Linked DNA regions of Homo sapiens. The protein of the gene in region 4 purifies or fractionates together with the protein of the main gene of each other region. This does not show direct contact. Each region holds a gene or a part of one and is shown on either strand. Other genes may lie near its edges.

What was found.
Region 1: the proteins of SPPL2B (region 4) and RMND1 purify together in Homo sapiens (co-immunoprecipitation; 3 studies listed by BioGRID and IntAct, with this or other methods). This does not show direct contact.
Region 2: the proteins of SPPL2B (region 4) and SURF4 purify together in Homo sapiens (co-immunoprecipitation; 3 studies listed by BioGRID and IntAct, with this or other methods). This does not show direct contact.
Region 3: the proteins of SPPL2B (region 4) and TXNDC15 purify together in Homo sapiens (co-immunoprecipitation; 3 studies listed by BioGRID and IntAct, with this or other methods). This does not show direct contact.

What each region holds. Positions count from the first base shown.
Region 1 is NC_000006.12:151,413,089-151,418,201, reverse strand, and holds part of RMND1 (required for meiotic nuclear division protein 1 homolog), read left to right. Parts: intron 1-802; coding exon 803-923; intron 924-930; exon of another isoform or gene 931-1,121; intron 1,122-2,653; exon of another isoform or gene 2,654-2,784; intron 2,785-5,113. UniProt on the Homo sapiens protein: Required for mitochondrial translation, possibly by coordinating the assembly or maintenance of the mitochondrial ribosome.
Region 2 is NC_000009.12:133,362,475-133,366,635, reverse strand, and holds part of SURF4 (surfeit locus protein 4), read left to right. Parts: coding exon 1-37; intron 38-607; coding exon 608-651; intron 652-1,609; coding exon 1,610-1,796; intron 1,797-2,876; coding exon 2,877-3,143; 3' UTR 3,144-3,160; coding exon of another isoform or gene 3,161-3,172; 3' UTR 3,173-4,161. UniProt on the Homo sapiens protein: Endoplasmic reticulum cargo receptor that mediates the export of lipoproteins by recruiting cargos into COPII vesicles to facilitate their secretion.
Region 3 is NC_000005.10:134,890,796-134,895,908, reverse strand, and holds part of TXNDC15 (thioredoxin domain-containing protein 15 isoform 1 precursor), read right to left. Parts: intron 2,418-5,113; coding exon 2,254-2,417; intron 1-2,253. UniProt on the Homo sapiens protein: Acts as a positive regulator of ciliary hedgehog signaling. Involved in ciliogenesis.
Region 4 is NC_000019.10:2,333,571-2,338,683, reverse strand, and holds part of SPPL2B (signal peptide peptidase-like 2B isoform 2 precursor), read right to left. Parts: intron 4,083-5,113; coding exon 3,963-4,082; intron 1,242-3,962; coding exon 1,059-1,241; intron 1,053-1,058; exon of another isoform or gene 1-1,052. UniProt on the Homo sapiens protein: Intramembrane-cleaving aspartic protease (I-CLiP) that cleaves type II membrane signal peptides in the hydrophobic plane of the membrane. Functions in ITM2B and TNF processing.

The DNA of each region.
Region 1 (5,113 bases), on a different chromosome or scaffold from region 4:
ACTCGAGCAATCTGCCCGCCTTGGCCTTCCAAAGTGCTGGGATTACAGGCATGAACCACCATGCCTGGCCCTAAAATTTTTAATAAAAAAAGTTTAGGCTGGGAATGGTGGCTCACACCTGTAATCCCAGCACTTTGGGAGGCTGAGGTAGGCAGATCACGTGAGGTCAGGAGTTCGAGACCAGCCTGGCCAACTTGGTAAAACCCTTTACTAAAAATACAAAAAATTAGCCAGGTGTGATGGTAGGCACCTGTAATCCCAGCTACTTGGGAGGCTGAGGCAGGAGAATTGCTTAAATCTGGGAGGCAGAGGTTGCAGTGAGCTGAGATCATGCCATTGTACTCCAGCCTGGGTGACAAGAGTGACTCTGTCTCAAAAAAAAAAAAAAAATTGAAAACAAAATGAGTTTTTTTCTGTGTACTTCATAAATAATGTTGGTATTAAAGATTGAATTAATTTGGTTCAGAAGTTTGAAACTCATTTGTAAATTTTATTTACATGTTTGTTGGCAGTATTTTGCAAAGGTCAGCATTAACAAATGTTTTCAGCCACATGCAATGCCACATGCCTGTAGTTCCAGCTACATGGGAGGCTGAGGCAGGAGAACAGCTTGAGCCCAGGAGTTCAGTTTGCAGTGAGTTGTGATCACACCACTGCACTCCATCCCGGGTAACATAGCAAGACCCTCTCTCTTACCAAAAAAAAAAAAGTTTTCATAAAGCACTATGTAAATATTAAATACAATAGAAACAATGATTTTTAATTCAAGATAAATAAAAAGTTATAATTTTCCTTTTTAAAGGCACCGTATAAACTTGAGTTCAGACTTCCTGATTACTCCTGATTTCTACTGGGACAGAGAAAACCTGGAAGGACTTTACGATAAAACGTGTCAATTCCTTAGCATTGGCCGAAGAGTTAAGGTACGTATTTTGCACTTCTAATGAGAGAAAAAGACACGTTGTCGCCTATAAGTTGAATATGTTTAACTGCTTGCAGAGAAATATCTTGTTTGACTTCCATTCAAATCTCTTTATATTTCCCCTTCTTGTCCTCTGTACAGTCACTTCAATTTTTTGTGTCAAAGGATCTTCTGATATTAGCTCTACAGACTAGATAAGGTTGGTGAATAAGATGAGAGTTTGGAAGCCTAATGGTCCATCAGTAAGTTCTTGTCAAGTTTCAAGCAAGAGTTCATGACTGCTTCTGATCTGTCATGGTGACAGTGAGAATAGAAATAAATTTAAGAAAGAATCATGTAAGACAAATCAAGTGATGGGTAATAAGAGGCCATGGAGAAGAAAGAATAAAGGATGACTGATGTTTGCCTGGAGGTGACAAGTAGAAAGGTGGAAAAACAATAATGAGAGGTCAGAGAGGGGAGGTGACAGACTAAATCTAAGATATGCTGAGATTAGAGTAGCAACAAGATATCCAATTAGCTCCGTCATGCAGGCATTTAGAAGGGCAGAAGCAAAGTCGGGAAAAGAGACGTGTATTAAGAAATCCCAGCACTTTGGGAGGCTGAGGCGGATGGATCACCTGAGGTTGGGAGTTTGAGACCAGCCTGGCCAACATGGCGAAACCCTGTCTCTACTAAAAATACAAAAATTAGCCAGGCATGGTGGCATTCTCCTATAGTCCGAGCTACTCGAGAGGCTGAGGCAGGAGAATCACTTGAACCCAGGAGGTGGAGGTTGCAGTGAGCCAAGGTCGAGCCAGTGCACTCCAGCCTGGATGACAGAGTGAGACTCCGTCTCAAAAAAAAAAAAAAAAAAAAAGCTGTAGTGATGGAGGTAGACCACATGGGGAAAGAGCATAGAAAACAGAAAATTGACATTAGTACAATGTGTGCACATAGTTCTGTGACATTTTGCCACATCTATAGATCCATGCAACCACATGATCAAGACACAAAACTGTGCCAGGTGCGGTGGCTCATGCCTGTAACCCCAGCACTTTGTGAGGCTAGAGGTGGGCAGATCACTTGAGGTCAAGAGTTCGAGACCTGCCTGGCCAATATGGTAAAACGCTGTCTCTACTAAAAATACAAAAATTAGCTGGGTGTGGTGGCGCGTGCCTGTAGTCCCAGCTACTCGGGAGGCTGAGGCAGCAGAATCGCTTGAACCCAGGAAGTGGAGGTTGCAGTGAGCTGAGGTCATGCCATTGCACTCCAGCCTGGGCGTTGCAGCGAGACTCCATCTCAAAAAAAACAAAACAAAAAGACACAAAACTGTTTTATCACTTTTCCTCATGCTACCCTGTATAGTCACACTGCCCTCCCCCTACCCGGACTGTCCCTAACCCCTGGCAGTGAGTAATCTCTTCTCCATCTCCATAATTTTGTCATTTTGAGGATGTTATATAGATAGTCATACAGTATGTGACTTTTTTTTTTTTTTTTTTTTTGAGACGGAGTCTTGCTCTGTTGCCCAGGCTGGAGTGCAGTGGCTCAATCTTGGCTCATTGCAAGCTCTGCCTCCCGGGTTCACGCCATTCTCCTGCCTCAGCCTCCTGAGTAGGTGGGACTACAGGCACCCGCCACCAAGCCCAGCTAATTTTTTTTTGTATTTTTAGTAGAGATGGGGTTTCACTGTGTTTAGCCAGGATGGTCTCGATCTGTATGTGACTTTTTAACTGGCTTTTTTCACAGAGCATAATGCCCTCAACTTGGATCCATCCAAATTGTTGCTTGTATCAAAGTTCCTGTCTTCCTGTGGTTACTGAAACAATTTTTTGGTATTTCATTTTGATGTTACTTTTTAATATATCTCGTTGCATAGATATTTAGTAGTTGCTCTGGTTATTACATCTTACGTATATAACTTATTACAATCTACTGATTTCAACATCTTGCAGATTAAATGAAGTATAGAATCTTTATTTCCCTAATGGATGATTGGATGCAGAAAAAAAAAAAGAATTCTTATTTCTTTTATATTCCTTTACCCTTCCGTATTTATAATTTTCTTAACTATTCTTCTGCAGACATAGAAAACTTCATCAGATAATGTTATAATTTTTGCTTCAACCATCAAACATAATTTAGAAAACTAAGAAAAGCAAAGTCTGTTGTATGTGCCCATGTTTTTATTCTTTCTGTTCTTTTCTCCTTCTGATCTTCTAAGATTTCTTTTACTGTTTTTTTTTTTCAAGAACTTTATTTAGCCATTCTTTTAAGGTAAGTCTAGTGAGACAAATTCTCTTAGTTTGTCTTCATCTGAGAGTGTATTAATTTTCTCTTCATTCTTGCAGGATATTTTCCTAGAAATAGGATTCTAGGTAGACAGTTTTCTTTCTTTCAGCACCTGAAAAATGCCATGCCACTTCCTTCTGACCTCCATGGTTTCTGACGGAAATCTGCCATAATTCTATGACATCTACATTTTATCTTTTATTATCATTTCACAAGGTCTTTGAGGCTCTGTTCACTTCTTTTCCAGTATATTTTGTCTCTGTTAAGATTGGGTAATGTCCTTTGTTTCATCTTCTAGTTGATTGATTCCTTCCTCTGTTACATTCGTTCTGCTGCCCAACATTGAGTTTATTTCATTTATTATATTTTTCAGTTCTAAAATTTCCATGTTTTTTTATTTGTATCTTCTGTTTCTTTGCAGAGACTTCCTGCTTTTTCGTTTGTTTCAAATGTGTTCAGAATTGCTTGTTGAATCATTTTTATGATGGTTGCTCTAACATCATCTAATAATACCTAACCTCAGATACCTCTTGATATTAGTGTCTACTGATTGTCTTTTCTGATTCCCTCCAACTAATTTTAATACCTCCAGTTTCCCTCATTGCCTCAAGTGTTCTGGCTTGATATACAAGGTCCTTCCTATTGTTTCTGTTTTTCAATCATATTTCCTACCAATCCCCACATTCACCTTGTATCACATCAAAAATAAGTGATTAGCCTGGGAAACACAATGAGACCTCATTTCTACTAACCTTTTTTTTAAAAAAATTAGCCAGGTATAATGGCATGTGCCTGTAGTCTCAGCTACCCTGGGAGGTTGAGGCAGGAGGATTGCTTTAGCCCAGGAGTTTGAGGCTGCAGTGAGCCATGATCACGCCACTACATCCCAGTCTAGGTGACAGAGTGAGACCCTGTCTCAAAAAAATAAAAATAAAAAATACATGATTTATAATTTCAAAAACCTACCATGGCTTATTGAATGCTATGTTCCACTTTAGTGTCTACATTTTTTTCCTCTAAGCTAGACACCGCCCCTTGCAAAACCACATCAAAGCTATCTGCAGTTGTCACTGATCTTGGCACCACCTATTCCTCTGTAGGTGTCTTCCAGCACAGGACAGTAGAGATCATCACCACTCGGCAAGAAAACCAAGCTATGTTGCTTTTAGCTGACACAGAAAGATTGATTAGTGATGGTTTAGGAATCAAATTCAGTGGACTCCATCAACACAGTTTTAGATAACAGAGGTGTAATTAGACACCGATTTGACAGTCCAACTGTCTGGTCAAACATGAAAAGCACTGGACTTTCCTGGTTGTCGACTGTGCACACAGGCTGAAGATCCAGAGGAGGAAAGGGAGGGATACTAAAAGCTTTATACAGTTGAGGTATTTCCTGTGGTTGTGTTAGCTATTGCTGTGTAACAAATTACCCCAAAACTTGGTGGACTGAAACACCACTTACTGGCTGGGCACGGTGGCTCACGCCTGTTACCCCAGCACTTTGGTAGGCCAAGGCAGGCAGGTCACATGAGGCCAGGAGTTCAAGACCAGCCTGGCCAACATGGTGAAACCCCATAAATTAGTCGGGCATGGTGGCATGCACCTGTAGTCCCAAGTAGCTGACTCTGGAGGCTGAGGCATGAGAATCACTTGAACCCAGGAGGCAGAGGTTGGACTGAGCTGAGACTGCACCACTGCACTCCAGCCTGGGTGACAGAGTGAGACTGTCTCAAAAAATAAAAAGAAAAAAGAAACACCACTTACTATTTAAGTTTTTGTGGGTCAGGAATCAGTGCAGCTTAGCTGGGTCCTCTGATTCTGTGTTTCTCACAAGGCTGCAGTCATCTCAGAGATTCACTTCCTAGTTCACTCGTGGTTATTGGCTGGATTTGGTTCCTCTCAGGCTATTAGATT
Region 2 (4,161 bases), on a different chromosome or scaffold from region 4:
CGCCTGCTTCGGGCTCTTTGGAATCATAGCTCTGCAGGTACACGGGCCGCGTGGTCGGGGCTCCCTTCTCTTTGCTCTGGTGGAGCAGAGCTTCTGAAAAGACATCCTTGAGGGTTCAGTGTCACTCCCCCTTCAGCCCCCTGCATGTCTCTGACTGCCTGGAGCTCCTTTCTCTTCTGGGGAAGTCGTGAGCCCAAGCAGGGCTGTAGAGGCAGGTCATTCGGTACTGGGCCATCTTTTGTCCCATTTCTATGATTACCGTGACAAGGGAAGTCTCGAGCTTGGCTGCAGCCAGGATGCTGTCTTGTTATCACGTTGCTTCATAAAGAAGAATACTTGGTTATTCAGAATGAAATGCTGGGAACAGAATATCTGAATCCACATCAGTGGTCTCAGAATCACTTTGTTCTCTGGAACATCATAGCACATTTCTTGAGAAATACAGAACCACATTTTTGAGCTTAGATCTGTCCTCGGTCTCCTACAATGGTTTTGTGTGTTTTAGACTCCAGCTGACATTGGAGAGACGGCCTAATGTATTATGAAGTCTGTGGAAATGCCTTTGGAAAGGCTGAGACTCAAGTATCTCTCTCTTCTTTCCCCTCAGACGATTGCCTACAGCATTTTATGGGACTTGAAGTTTTTGATGAGGTATGTGCATTCTGGTTGGTTTTAGTATACGCTCCTTCTACAGGTTGAGCATTGCAAATCCAAAGTCTGAAATGCTCCAAAATGGGAAAAATCTTGGGCACCAACATGACGCTCAAAGGAAGTGCTCATTGGAGCATTTCAGGTTTTGGATTTTCAGATTTGGGATGCTCAGCCAATAAGTATATAATGCAAATATACCAAAATCTGAAACACTTTGGGTCCTAAGCATTTCAGGTTAGGGATACTCAATCTGTATTTCTAAACTCAGTTAACTATTGGTTTGAGTAGACTTCTCTGGGTCTAAACCAAGCTTGTCCAGCCTGTGGTCCACGGGGTGAACATGGCCCAACACAAACTCAAAAACTTTCTTAAAACATTGAGAGTTTTTTTTGTGATTTTTAAGTTTTATTTTTTAGCTCATCACCTATCATTAGCATTAGTGTATTTTATGTGTGGCCAAGACAGTTCTTCCAGGGTAGCCCAGGGAAGCCAAAAGATTGGACCCCCCTGTCTAAATTGTGCCTCTTAGAAACAGGTTCTGAAGAGGATGTTGCAGAGCCCCTAGAATAGTAGAGACTGAAGCCGTCTCTTCTGACCCTTATTTCACGGGTGTGGGGACTCCGGGTCTGAGTGGAGGACAGACCTGACCACGGGGACCCAGCTGGTCAACACTGAAGCTGTGACTAGGACTCGGTTGTGTGTGTGTTCAGGTAGCCTGTCACTGTCGAGTTGTAAAGATACCTCTGTCTCCTGAGCTATGTAAGGTTTTACATGGGTGTAACTCGAGTCTGAGGTCCTGTGCGCATGCCTGCCTGGTCCTGCTTGGCAGATCACTGGGTTTGGAGAAAGGGAAGTAAGGGCCTTCTTATACTGGCAGCAAGGTCTCCCTGCACCTGGTCTCACAGACAGGCCAGATCCTGGTGAGGCTTAGCTTCCAGCCCACATATCTGTTCCTCAGGAACCTGGCCCTGGGAGGAGGCCTGTTGCTGCTCCTAGCAGAATCCCGTTCTGAAGGGAAGAGCATGTTTGCGGGCGTCCCCACCATGCGTGAGAGCTCCCCCAAACAGTACATGCAGCTCGGAGGCAGGGTCTTGCTGGTTCTGATGTTCATGACCCTCCTTCACTTTGACGCCAGCTTCTTTTCTGTAAGTATTCCTACTTGCCTGAACCGGTCTGGTTTCCTGTGAATGCTGTCCCTCCCCCACCCCCTCCCTGCTCACCCCTCCCTGGTTGGGTATTAACCACAGCCTGGGGGAGCTGCTGAAATGGAGCAAACTTTTTTTTTTTTTTTTTTGAGACGGAGTCTCGCTCTGTCCCCCAGGCTGGAGTGCAGTGCGTGATCTCGGCTCACCGCAAGTTCCGCCTCCCGGGTTCACGCCATTCTCCTGCCTCAGCCTCCCGAGCAGCTGGGACTACAGGCGCCTGCCAACACGCCTGGCTAATTTTTTGTATTTTTAGTAGAGACAGGGTTTCACCGTGTTAGCCAGGATGGTCTCGATCTCCTGACCCCTCGTGATCTGCCTGTCTCAGCCTCCCAAATTGCTGGGATTACAGGCGTGAGCCACCGTGCTCGGCGGAGCAAACTTTTTGATCCCATTAAAACAGACCAAAACATCGTCAATCTCTTGTGTGTCAAGCCTTCTTTCCAGCAAATGAAGGCCAGAACCTCTGACCTTGGTGGAGTGTGCTTGGCCCTTGGTTGGCCAAGGCTCTCCACCCGGGCTCCCCTTACTCTTCTTTCTTTCCTCACTGTTCGTATCTTTCTCAAGTAATTCCTGTGTGTCAGGTGTCAGGGGCAGGCCTCCAGGAGCTTCCAGAGCACACCTCCGGAGCTGACTGAGAGCCCTGGCCGGGTAGTGTCCAGGAAGAGCTCCTGGCGCCATGGAGAGAGGAGAGAGGATGTTTCTGGCCTGGATGGCTGGGTGGGCCAAGAAGCACTTGGGAATTTAGTTATGGATTAGAGATTCATCTTGGTAAATCACAGCCTGTTACTAGTTGGGAACTTCAGTCTTCCCCAAACCTTCCACATTTCAAAGCTGGTGCTTTATTGCCTCCTGCCTCCCTTTGGCTTTTATCTCCCTACTTGCACCAGCAGCCGTCTCAGCAGTAGCTACATCAGCCTGATGGATAGAGACTTCATGACGTGCAGCAGCTGGAACTTTTGTTTATAAAGCATCTCTTTTCCTCACATTTATTTTGAATTTCTTACGTTTCAACCTATGCAGATTGTCCAGAACATCGTGGGCACAGCTCTGATGATTTTAGTGGCCATTGGTTTTAAAACCAAGCTGGCTGCTTTGACTCTTGTTGTGTGGCTCTTTGCCATCAACGTATATTTCAACGCCTTCTGGACCATTCCAGTCTACAAGCCCATGCATGACTTCCTGAAATACGACTTCTTCCAGACCATGTCGGTGATTGGGGGCTTGCTCCTGGTGGTGGCCCTGGGCCCTGGGGGTGTCTCCATGGATGAGAAGAAGAAGGAGTGGTAACAGTCACAGATCCCTACCTGCCTGGCTAAGACCCGTGGCCGTCAAGGACTGGTTCGGGGTGGATTCAACAAAACTGCCAGCTTTTATGTATCCTCTTCCCTTCCCCTCCCTTGGTAAAGGCACAGATGTTTTGAGAACTTTATTTGCAGAGACACCTGAGAATCGATGGCTCAGTCTGCTCTGGAGCCACAGTCTGGCGTCTGACCCTTCAGTGCAGGCCAGCCTGGCAGCTGGAAGCCTCCCCCACGCCGAGGCTTTGGAGTGAACAGCCCGCTTGGCTGTGGCATCTCAGTCCTATTTTTGAGTTTTTTTGTGGGGGTACAGGAGGGGGCCTTCAAGCTGTACTGTGAGCAGACGCATTGGTATTATCATTCAAAGCAGTCTCCCTCTTATTTGTAAGTTTACATTTTTAGCGGAAACTACTAAATTATTTTGGGTGGTTCAGCCAAACCTCAAAACAGTTAATCTCCCTGGTTTAAAATCACACCAGTGGCTTTGATGTTGTTTCTGCCCCGCATTGTATTTTATAGGAATAGTGAAAACATTTAGGGACACCCAAAGAATGATGCAGTATTAAAGGGGTGGTAGAAGCTGCTGTTTATGATAAAAGTCATCGGTCAGAAAATCAGCTTGGATTGGTGCCAAGTGTTTTATTGGGTAACACCCTGGGAGTTTTAGTAGCTTGAGGCAAGGTGGAGGGGCAAGAAGTCCTTGGGGAAGCTGCTGGTCTGGGTGCTGCTGGCCTCCAAGCTGGCAGTGGGAAGGGCTAGTGAGACCACACAGGGGTAGCCCCAGCAGCAGCACCCTGCAAGCCAGCCTGGCCAGCTGCTCAGACCAGCTTGCAGAGCCGCAGCCGCTGTGGGCAGGGGGTGTGGCAGGAGCTCCCAGCACTGGAGACCCACGGACTCAACCCAGTTACCTCACATGGGGCCTTTTCTGAGCAAGGTCTCGAAAGCGCAGGCCGCCCTGGCTGAGCAGCACCGCCCTTTCCCAGCTGCACTCGCCCTGTGGACAGCCC
Region 3 (5,113 bases), on a different chromosome or scaffold from region 4:
AGATCAACTTACAGTAGGCAATTGGTTTGGTAAGCTGGCACAAGGGAGTATATGATCTAACAAACACACCAGGATGTTCACAATTAGGGCAGGATGACTTGTTTAGAAGGAATATAACTGTGCGGGCTTATTTCACCTTTACATAATACAGACTAGTGGTGATAAGCTCCCAAGTCAAAACACTCTGGGTTGAAGCCTCAGTTCTGCCACTGAACCAATGTGAACTCTGGGCAGATTATTTAACCTTGCTAAGCCTCAATTTTCCGCATTAGTAAAATAGTAATAGTGTATAACCAGGATTTTTTTCTTTTGTACACATGCTGTAACTTAAATATTAACATAAGAAGCAAACATGTCCCAGCCCATATAATAACAGCAAGAGCCTTAGTCTCCATAATTAAGATACAACATGGAGCTGAAGGAAGGAAAGAAGAAAGCAGGTTAGGGAGGGAGTTGCGGGAGAGGCAGGAGGGACAGTGTGAGACCCAGAACCAAAGAGCACTGAGTATGCCTGGGGGCAGTGGAGGCCCCACCAAAGCTGGACACTGACGTGATCTGTCCTTCCAATCAGTCTGCTCCCTTGGGCCCAGTCACTTAGATATAACCCAGAAGCCTATATGAAAATTACTAATTTGTTGAGCCATTTCTTTCTTCATAAAAGTTTCAGGTAAACATTGGCAGTTATATTCCCACAATGAAAATCAGTGGAATACAATTTTTTTTTTTTTGAGACAGGGTCTCACTCTGTAGCCCAGGCTGGAGTGCAGTGACAGGATCACGGCTCACTGTGACCTTGACCTCCCCTGGTTCAGGCAATCTTCCCACCTCAGCCTCCCAAGTAGCTGGGGTACCACAGGTATGTGCCACCATCCTCAGTCAATTTTTTGTATTTTTTTTTATAGAGATGGAGTTCTGCCATGTTGTCCAGGCTGGTCTCAAACTCTTGGGCTCAAGCAATCCTTCTACCTTGGCCTCTCAAAGTGATGGGATTACAGGTGTGAGCCACTGCACCTGGCCTCAAGTACAGAGTAATGGAAGTTTACTCAACTTCATTTTACCACCAATTGACCATTTTTCAGATGTTCTAGATTTATTTACACACAACCTCCTTGTTGAGGCTGACCTACTAAGGAGCATCTGATTTGGAAGAGAAGAACAGTTTATAACTCAGGCACAATCGCAGCACTTAGGAGAAACATATACCATCTCAACAAAGTTCTCTGTAACTTACTTTACTAAACATTTAAAAAAGACAAAAAGTGGCTCACACCTGTAATCCCAGCACTTTGGGAGGCCGAGGCTGGTAGATCACAAGGTCAGGAGTTCGAGACCAGCCTGGCCAACAAACGGTGAAACCCCGTTTAAAAATACAAAATTAGCCGGCATGGTGGCAGGTGCTTGTAATCCCAGCTACTCAGGAGGCTGAGGCAGGAGAATCACTTGAACCTGGGAGGCAGAGGTTGCAGTGAGCCTAGATCACACCATTGCACTCCAGCCTGGGTGACAGAGCAAGATTCCACCTCAAAAAAAAAAAAAAAAGAAAAAAAAAATGACCAGCCTGGCATGGTGGCGCATGCCTGTAGTCCTGCTACTCAGGAGGTTAAGTCAGGACGATCGCTTGAGCCCAGGAGTTCAAGGCCAGCCTGGACAAAAACCCAGTGAATGATACACGAGAAATATAAAACAAAGATAAATGTCATGTTAAAGAGCTAAATTAATTCATGACTTGATCGAGTGCCTACTACAGAACATGACTGCAAGAATAAGTACGCAGGAAAGAAAGAAGGAAAGAGGGAAAGGGAAAAGAAGGAAAGAAAAAGAAAAGGAAGGGAAGAAATCCTGAGTAGACACAAAACAGGGGTGCTGGGAATTGGGCTGCCTGGGATGGGGATTTAACCTGCGCCTTAAAGTCACAAAGGAATATCCTACTGTGATACCAATTGTGCTGATTCAGTCTGGCTATGGCCCTCAAAAGTCTTCTGGCCCCTCCCCTGCCATCAGGTGCTACCACCTGCCACCTTTAAATCCACCACACAGAGAACAGCCCACTTTCTTTAAGGGGCCTCCATAAAGTGACACCACCAGCTCCCTCAGGAGTATGATAATCCTCACTATTCACTCTTGCCTTGCCTTCCATCCCAGGACACAGTTCATGCCCCCCCTCTTCTGCTTCTAACTTAACTAATTAGGACCTCCAAATAACTGCAACCATCAGCCAGGAGGATGGACGTAAACCCCACCAATGGAAGATACCTGCTGTGCTGAGATGCATCCAGTGCCAAAAAGTGAAGAGCTGGAAATGCCCGGGGCAGAGAGTTAAAGTGAGGGGCCAAACTGGCAGAAAAGCGGCACCACGGGGTGTAAAACAGGACTAGAGTACAGTCACTACCGTTTGGGTTCAGAAAATCCATAAGGTCCTGTGGTAAAAGAAACAAGCATTAAAGTTAGCAGTAAAAGTACATTTTTCTGAAAGGATACCCAAGAAACAGGACACACTGCTGCTCCAGGGAGAGGAACGGGTGGGTAGGAGCAGCGAGAGAAGGAACCCTCGGAACCTTTTGGATTTTGAACCATATGAATCCAGGAACCAGCAAAAAAGTATGATCAAATGACAAGTTATAAACTTTCACTTTTTTTAAGTCTTGCTGAATTAAGCAGAAAGTTTTAAACTTTCCTCTGCGCTTTCCTAATATTACAAGTTATTTTAATATTTTTCATAATTCATCATTTCAAATACAGGCATACCTCATTTTACTGCATTTCACTCCATTGCACTTTGCTGACATTGCATTTTTTGCAGATTGAAAGTTTGTGGCAACTCGGCATCCAGCAAGTTTTTCAGCACCATTTTTCCAACAGCATGTGCTCAATTTGTGTCTGTGTCACATTTTGGTAATTCTTGCAATATTTCAAACTCTTCCATTATTATTATATCTGTTATGGTGATCTATGATAAGTATCTTTGATGTTACTATTGTAATTGTTTTGGGGCGCCACCAACTGTACCCATAGAAGACAGTGAACTTTATCAGTAAATGTCTATGTTCTGACTGTTCCACCGACCAGCTATTCCCCATCTCTCTCCCTCTCCTCAGGCCTCTCCCTGAGACACAACAATATTGAAATTAGGTGAATTAATAACCCTACAGTGGCCTCTGTTTAAGTGAAAGGAAGAGTTGTACATCTCTCGTGAAAGGAAGAGTTGTACATCTCTCATTTTAAATCAAAGCCAAAAATGATTGATTAAACTTAGTGAGGAAGCCATGCCGAATGCCAACATAGGAGACAGGCTGAAAGCTAGGCCTCTTACACCAAACAGCCACATTATAAATGCAAAGGAAAAGTTTTTAAAGGAAGTTAATGTGCTACTCCATCCAGTGTGGTGACCTCTGATGCTTAAAAATAAAAATAAGTGCTACTCAATGAATATGCAAATGATAAGAAAGCAAAACAGCATTATTGCTCATATGGAGAAAATCTTAATGCTATAGATAGACGATCAAACCAGTCACAACATTTAAGCCAAAGCCTAAATCCAGAGCAAGGCCCTAACTCTCTTCAATTCTACGAAGGCTGAGAGAGGTGAGGAAACTGCAGAGGAAAAGTCTGAAATTAGCTGGGGTTGGCTCATGAGGTTTAAGAAAGAAGCTGTCTCCAGAACATAAAAGTGCAAGGTGAGGCAGCAAGTGCTGATAGAGAAGCTACAACATAGTAACATCAAAGATCAATGGGGAAAAAAAAAAAGAAGCTGCAACAACTTACCCAGAACATCTAGCTAAGAGAATTGATGAAGGTGGCTATACTCAAAAATCAATTTTCATGTAGATAAGACAGCCTTCTATTGGAATAAGGTGGCTTCTAGGACTTTCATAGCTAGACAAGAGATGTCAATGCCTGGCTTCAAAGGACAGGCGGACTCTTTTTAGAGGCCAGTGTAGCTGCGGTCTTATTTATTTATTTAACAATAAATCTTATTATTTATTTATTTATTTATTTGACAAGGTCTTGCTCTGTCACCCAGGCTGGAGTACAGTGGCGCAATCATGGCTCATGGCAGCCTCAGCCTCTGGGCTCAAGCAATCCTCCTGCCTCAGCCTCCCAAGTAGCTGGTGCCCACCACCATGCCTGGCAAGTTTTTGTATTTTTTGTAGAGATAAGGTTTCACCATGTTCCCCAGGCTGGTCTGGAACTCCTAGGTTTAAGCAATCCACCCACCTTGGCCTCTGAAAGTACTGGGATTACAGGTATGAGCAACCACAGGGCCAATGCTCATTGCTCATTGCCCATTCTGAAGATCCTGGGGCCTTTAAAAATTATGCTAAATTTATTTTGCCTGTGCTCTAGAAAAGGAACAACAAAGCCTGGATGACAGTACATCTGTTTACAGCATGGTTTCCTGAGTATTTTAGGCCCACTGTTGAGACCTACTGCTCAGAAAAAAAGATTCCTTTCAAAATATTATACTCGTTGACAATGCACCTGGTCAACCAAGAGTTCTGGTGGAGATGCACAAGGAGATGAATGTTGTTTTCAGGCCTGCTAACACAGCATCCATTCTGCAGCCCATGAATCAAGGAGGGATTTCAACTTTTAACTCTTATTATTTAAGAAATACATTTCATAAGGCTATAGTTGCCATAGATAGCAATTCCTCTGATGGATTTGGGCAAAATAAATTTAAAACCTTCTGGAAAGGATTTACCATTCTAGATGACTTTAAAAATATCTGTGATTCATGGCAGGTGGTCAAAATATCAACATTAATAGGCGTTTAGAATAAGCTGACTCCAACCCTCGTGGATGACTTTGAGGAATTCAAGACCTCAATGGAGAATGGAACTGCGGATGTGGTAGAAATAGCAAGAAAACTAGGATTAGAAGTGGAGTCTGAAGATAGGACTGAATTGCTACAATCTCATGATAAAACTTGAAGAGATGAGGAGTTGATTTTTATGGATAAGCAAAGAAAGTAGGTTTTTGAGATGGCATCTACGCCTGGTGAAGATGCTGTGAACACTGTTGAAATGACGACAAAGGATTTAGAATATTCCATAAACTTAGTTGATAATGCAGCAGCAGGGTTTGAGAGGATTGACTCCAACTTTGAAAGAAG
Region 4 (5,113 bases):
ATTCGCCTCCTCTCCTGGGACCCTCACTCGAGGCTCGGGTCAGGCTGGGGGCGCCTGCTGGCTCCCCCTCTGCAGCTGACAGCCTCCGGCCCCCCAGGAGGACCCAAGAACAGGGAGGCCGAAGGGCATCAAGCCTTCTTCACCTGACAACAGGGCCCCAGGCCTAAAAGCGCCACTAATCCCTCCCTCGGCCGTGGGACTCCCGAACCGCACATACAAGTCCTGAGTGATACTTGTCACAGCCCATGCCTGCCCACTAAGCCGCCTTGAGCCCCGCACCCACTGAGGGCCTCTCTCAACTACGACGGCAGCGTGTGCGGACAGGGATGGCACTCTCGGCTCTGCCCGGCCTGCTCTGCCCTCGGCCCTGAGCCCCTGCACCAGGCCTCCGTGGATTGCCAGGCTCAGGGTGCAACACTGGCGGGGGCAGCCCAGAGCCACAGGCAGAGCTGTGAGGGAATTCCTGAACTCCATTCCTTCTTACTCCAAAACTACACTTCAGGGGCGGCCACGCACCCTGCCCAGCCCAGCAGTCGGCATGTCCCTGTGCTGTGACCAGCCCTGCCAGGCCCCCAGCTCTCAACCACAGCCCCATTTCACAGAAGATGGAAAAGGGGCCAGGCTTCAGGCCACCTGGCTAGGACCACAGGCGAGCACGGCCCCACCGGCTAGAGGGCAAGGGCACCAGGGTACCCAGAAAGGACCAGCTCAGGGCCAGGCCACCTGCTCCTCAGAAGCCACCCCAATCCCATCCCCACAGAGAGTGTGGTCTCCGTCACCCCTGGGGGCTGCTCTAGGACAGGCACCCAACAAGACCACGGCCAAAGTTCCACAGCCCCAGCCAGCAGCTCAGGAAGAACAGACTCATCTCCGCCCTCCCCACGGCCACACTCGGCCCGGATCCTCCCCATGTTCACACTCGGCCCAGATCCTCCCCACAGATGGATCTGCCTTTAGCGAGAAGTCGGAAGACCAGCCCCAGCTGCTGCCATCTCTGCCTCCTGCACCCCCCTCCTGCCCCTGAGAGCTGGCCCAGCGGGGGACGCACAGGGCCGTACCAGCCTCTCCCTGCTGACGATGAGCAGCCCGCGTGCTCCGCTGCCCTGGGCCAGCCTCACTTTCTCATAGAAGGTGCAGTTCCCCCGCGCCACCAGCGGGATCTGGTTGCTGAAGCCACGGGCGGGGAGGTCGGCTGCGGAGCAGAGCAGGGAGGCCGTCCAGTTGCGCAGCTGCAGGAAAGACTGGAAAGGCCAGGGCACAGTGTTGTCTCACGTGATGTGAGTCACCAGGAGGGCCCAGCTGCCCGTTCTCCCACCTGAAGCCTGCGCTGAGTTAGATCCCAGCCCTCACCTAAAGCCCCGCACGGCCTCGGCCCACCTAGGCAGAGCCATCCCTACTGCAGCTCCCACAGCCGGACCCTGGGCGACGGGCTGGGCTGCCTCATCTGAGCGGGGCCGGAGTCCTCACAGACATGGCTGTCCCCTGATACCTGAGCCACCCCGCGAGCCGTCACAGATCACTCAGCAAGACCAAGTGGGTCCCCACCGCAGCCCCACCACGGCCAGGCATCTGTGAGAAGGGGGAGGGTTTCCAGTGTGCAGAGAACAAAGCCCCAACTCTCAGGGGCCTCACAGCCCCTGAAGCCAAGACACACACGCACACACACACGCACACGCACACACACACCCACAGCCAGGCCGGAACACGCGCACACACAAGCACACGTCCACAGCCAGGCTGGAGCACACGGCACACACATGCATACATGCACACACACACACACACCCACAGCCAGACCAGTGCACACGCACACACCCACAGCCAGGCTGGAGTGCACACACACACACACGCACATAGCCGCAGCCAGGCCAGCGCGCACACACACACACACCCACAGCCAGGCTGGAGTGCATGCACACACACGTGCACACATACACAGCCAGGCCGGACCACATGGCACACATATGCACACGCAAGCACACACATGCACACTCACACTCAAGCAGACACATGCCTATTACACACATGCACACACACACGCACACACAGCCAGGCCAGAGCACACAGCACACGTGTGCATATACAAGCACATACCTGTGCACTCAAGCTCACGCACACACACCTATTACACACACATGCATACACACACGCCACATGAACTCACACACTCACACGCACATACCTATTACACATGCACTCACACACACTCATGCACACACACGAACCCAAACACACAGGCACATACACATCCACACACAAACCTATTATCCACATGTACACACACATACACACAGACCTATTACACATGTACACACGCACACATGTGCAGACACATGCACACATCCACAAACATAACTATTATGTAGCTACATGCTTACACACACCTGCACACATACAGACACACATGCACTCACACATCCATACACAAAACTATTGCATGCACACTCACAGGCACATGTGCACATAAAAACAGACATACACATTCAGACCCATGCACATGCCCCCACACACCTATTACACACATGCTCACACACACAGGTGTGCTGACACACAAACACGCACTAAGGCACACATGTCCATGCACATATCTAGTACACATGTGCTCACACACACAAACTCAGAAATATGCACTCAGGCACATGTCTTCACACATACCTATTACATGTGTTCACATACCTATTACATGTGTTGACACACACCTATGTGTTCACACACAAAAAAACACTCAGGCACATGCACACATACACTGATGCAAACTCACATAAACATGCAGACACATGAGCATGTCCAGGCACATACTGATTACACACGTGCTCACACGCACACACTATGCATAAAGCTGACAGGAAGATGCTAGTGCCTCTTCGCCGGCACACCTCGAGGGCTCCAGGAGGGGGCGGGACACAGTGGGAAAGGAGGCGGGGCCTGAGGGACTCAGTGGGAAAGGAGGCGGGGCCTGAGGGATGCGGTGGGAAAGGAGAGAGGGCCTGAGGGATACGGTGGGAAAGGAGGCAGGGCCTGAGGGATGGGGTGGGAAAGGAGGCGGGGCCTGAAGGATGCAGTGGGAAAGGAGGCAGGGACAGAGGGGTGTGGTGGGAAAGGAGGCGGGGCCAGAGGGATGCAGTGGAAAAGGAGGCAGGGCCTGAGGGATGAAGTGAGAAAGGAGGCGGGGCCTGAGGGATGCAGTGGGAAAGGAGGCGGGGCCTGAAGGATGCAATGAGAAAGGAGGCGGGGCCTGAAGCATGCAGTGGGAAAGGAGGCGGGGCCTGAAGCATGCAGTGGGAAAGAAGGCGGGGCCTGAAGGATGCAGTGAGAAAGGAGGCGGGGCCTGAAGGATGCAGTGGGAAATGAGGCGGGGCCTGAAGGATGCAGTGGGAAAGGAGGCGGGGCCTGAAGGATGCAGTGGGAAAGGAGGCGGGGCCTGAAGGATGCAGTGGGAAAGGAGGCGGGGCCTGAAGGATGCAGTGGAAAGGAGGCGGGGCCTGAGGGATGCGGTGGGAAAGGAGGCGGGGCATGAGGACTAAGTGGGAAAGGAGGTGGGGCCTCTGAGGGAGGGACTCATCCAGCAGCAGGTGTTAGTGCCCCAGTCAGGAAGACGGTGAAAGGAACAGGTCTCGTCCCTGGGGCCCCACTGTGCCCTCTGCTGTTACTCCTCTGAGGACCCCTCTGTCTGGGCCCACTGGATAGGGTCCCCGGCATGGAGCAGTAGAGACCCTTATCTACCACATGGAGCTCGGCCGGTGCCTCTGGATCTGCACCCCAAGGCCGCATGGACAGCTTGCATTGATGACCAGGGTTGGGGAGGCCCAGGGGAACTGGGGGCCAGCTAAGAGTCCCCCAGACCTGGTCAGGGCCTGCCTCTCGCCTCTGGATCTTTCCTGCAACCCCAGCCGGATGTGTCTCTAGAGCCCCGGGGCCCCCGCATTCTCCTCCGCAGCGGCGCCCGGCCAGCGGGTACTCACTGCCTTGCTGAGGTCGTGCGGAAGATGGGCCCACTGCGGGTTGTAGAGGATGCAGTAGTCTTTGCCTTCGGGGCCCCCGGCCTGGGAGACCACGTGCACCATGCCGTACTCACAGGCCACCTGCAGGACAAGGCCAGCAGTCAGAGCCACAGCACGGGACGTGCGGGGCTGCACCGCCCCACGAGAAACAGGCCCGAGGAGGGGAGGACGCCTCCAGGAAGGGCGCCCATGTTCACCAGGTGGTCTGGGATGCTTCCCCCTCTCGACAGGACAGACAGGGACGTGACCATACGTGGTTTACAGCAAAGACCCAGACTGGCTCACCTTCCTCAGGGAGCCCCAGGCTGGTGACCATGAGTGTGTCAGGTCACCCCTTTGTGGCTCCCGAGTTTCTGCACCAAAAAACAGGGATCGCACCACCTCCTGGGCCTCCCAGGATCAGTGGGCACGGTGGGAGAATGACAGCCACGGGCAGAGCCACGGGCAGAGCCCTGAGCAGGGAAGCAGGGCAGGGCCCCAGCGGACCTGGCCCCCAGCCTGGGCGGGAGGCCTGGACAAGCAAGCCTCTGCACCCCTCAGGTCTGGGTGGCCTTTGACCCACAGCCCCGTGGGCACTGCTTGTTGGCTGGTGCTCCAAGGCACACGGGGGCCCAGGCACACGGTGGGGCCCAGACGAGGGGGATCCCCAGATCAGCACCCCTCAGCTCCCACTGGTAGAACAGCAGGAAGCAGGTGGGCCAAGGGGCCTACGGGCACCGGGTCCTGAGTGGGACAGGCTGAGGTTTGCAACAGGTCACGCTGCCACCAGCAGGACAGACAGCGTCATGTTCCCCATGAAGCCCCAAAGCAGCAGAGTCCAGCACAGCAGCTCCCACTTCGCAGGAGGGAGAAGGAACAGCCAGCCAGGGCTTCAAGTTCCTGCTCTCCAGCCTGCAGCAGCAGCAGCTCAGAGAAGGCCACAGGGAGAAGGCCCGGATCCACGGGCAGGAGCCCCTGACACACAACGGGGACAACAGGCCAAAGCCAGCCAAGAGAAGCAGGGGTGGTGGCCACCGCGCCCAGGACAGAACGGGCTGGGGCCCTTGCCACGCTCTCAAAATGAAGTAGGGGGCAGGACCAGGCCCCAAAGCCCTGGACGCCTCCCAGGAGGG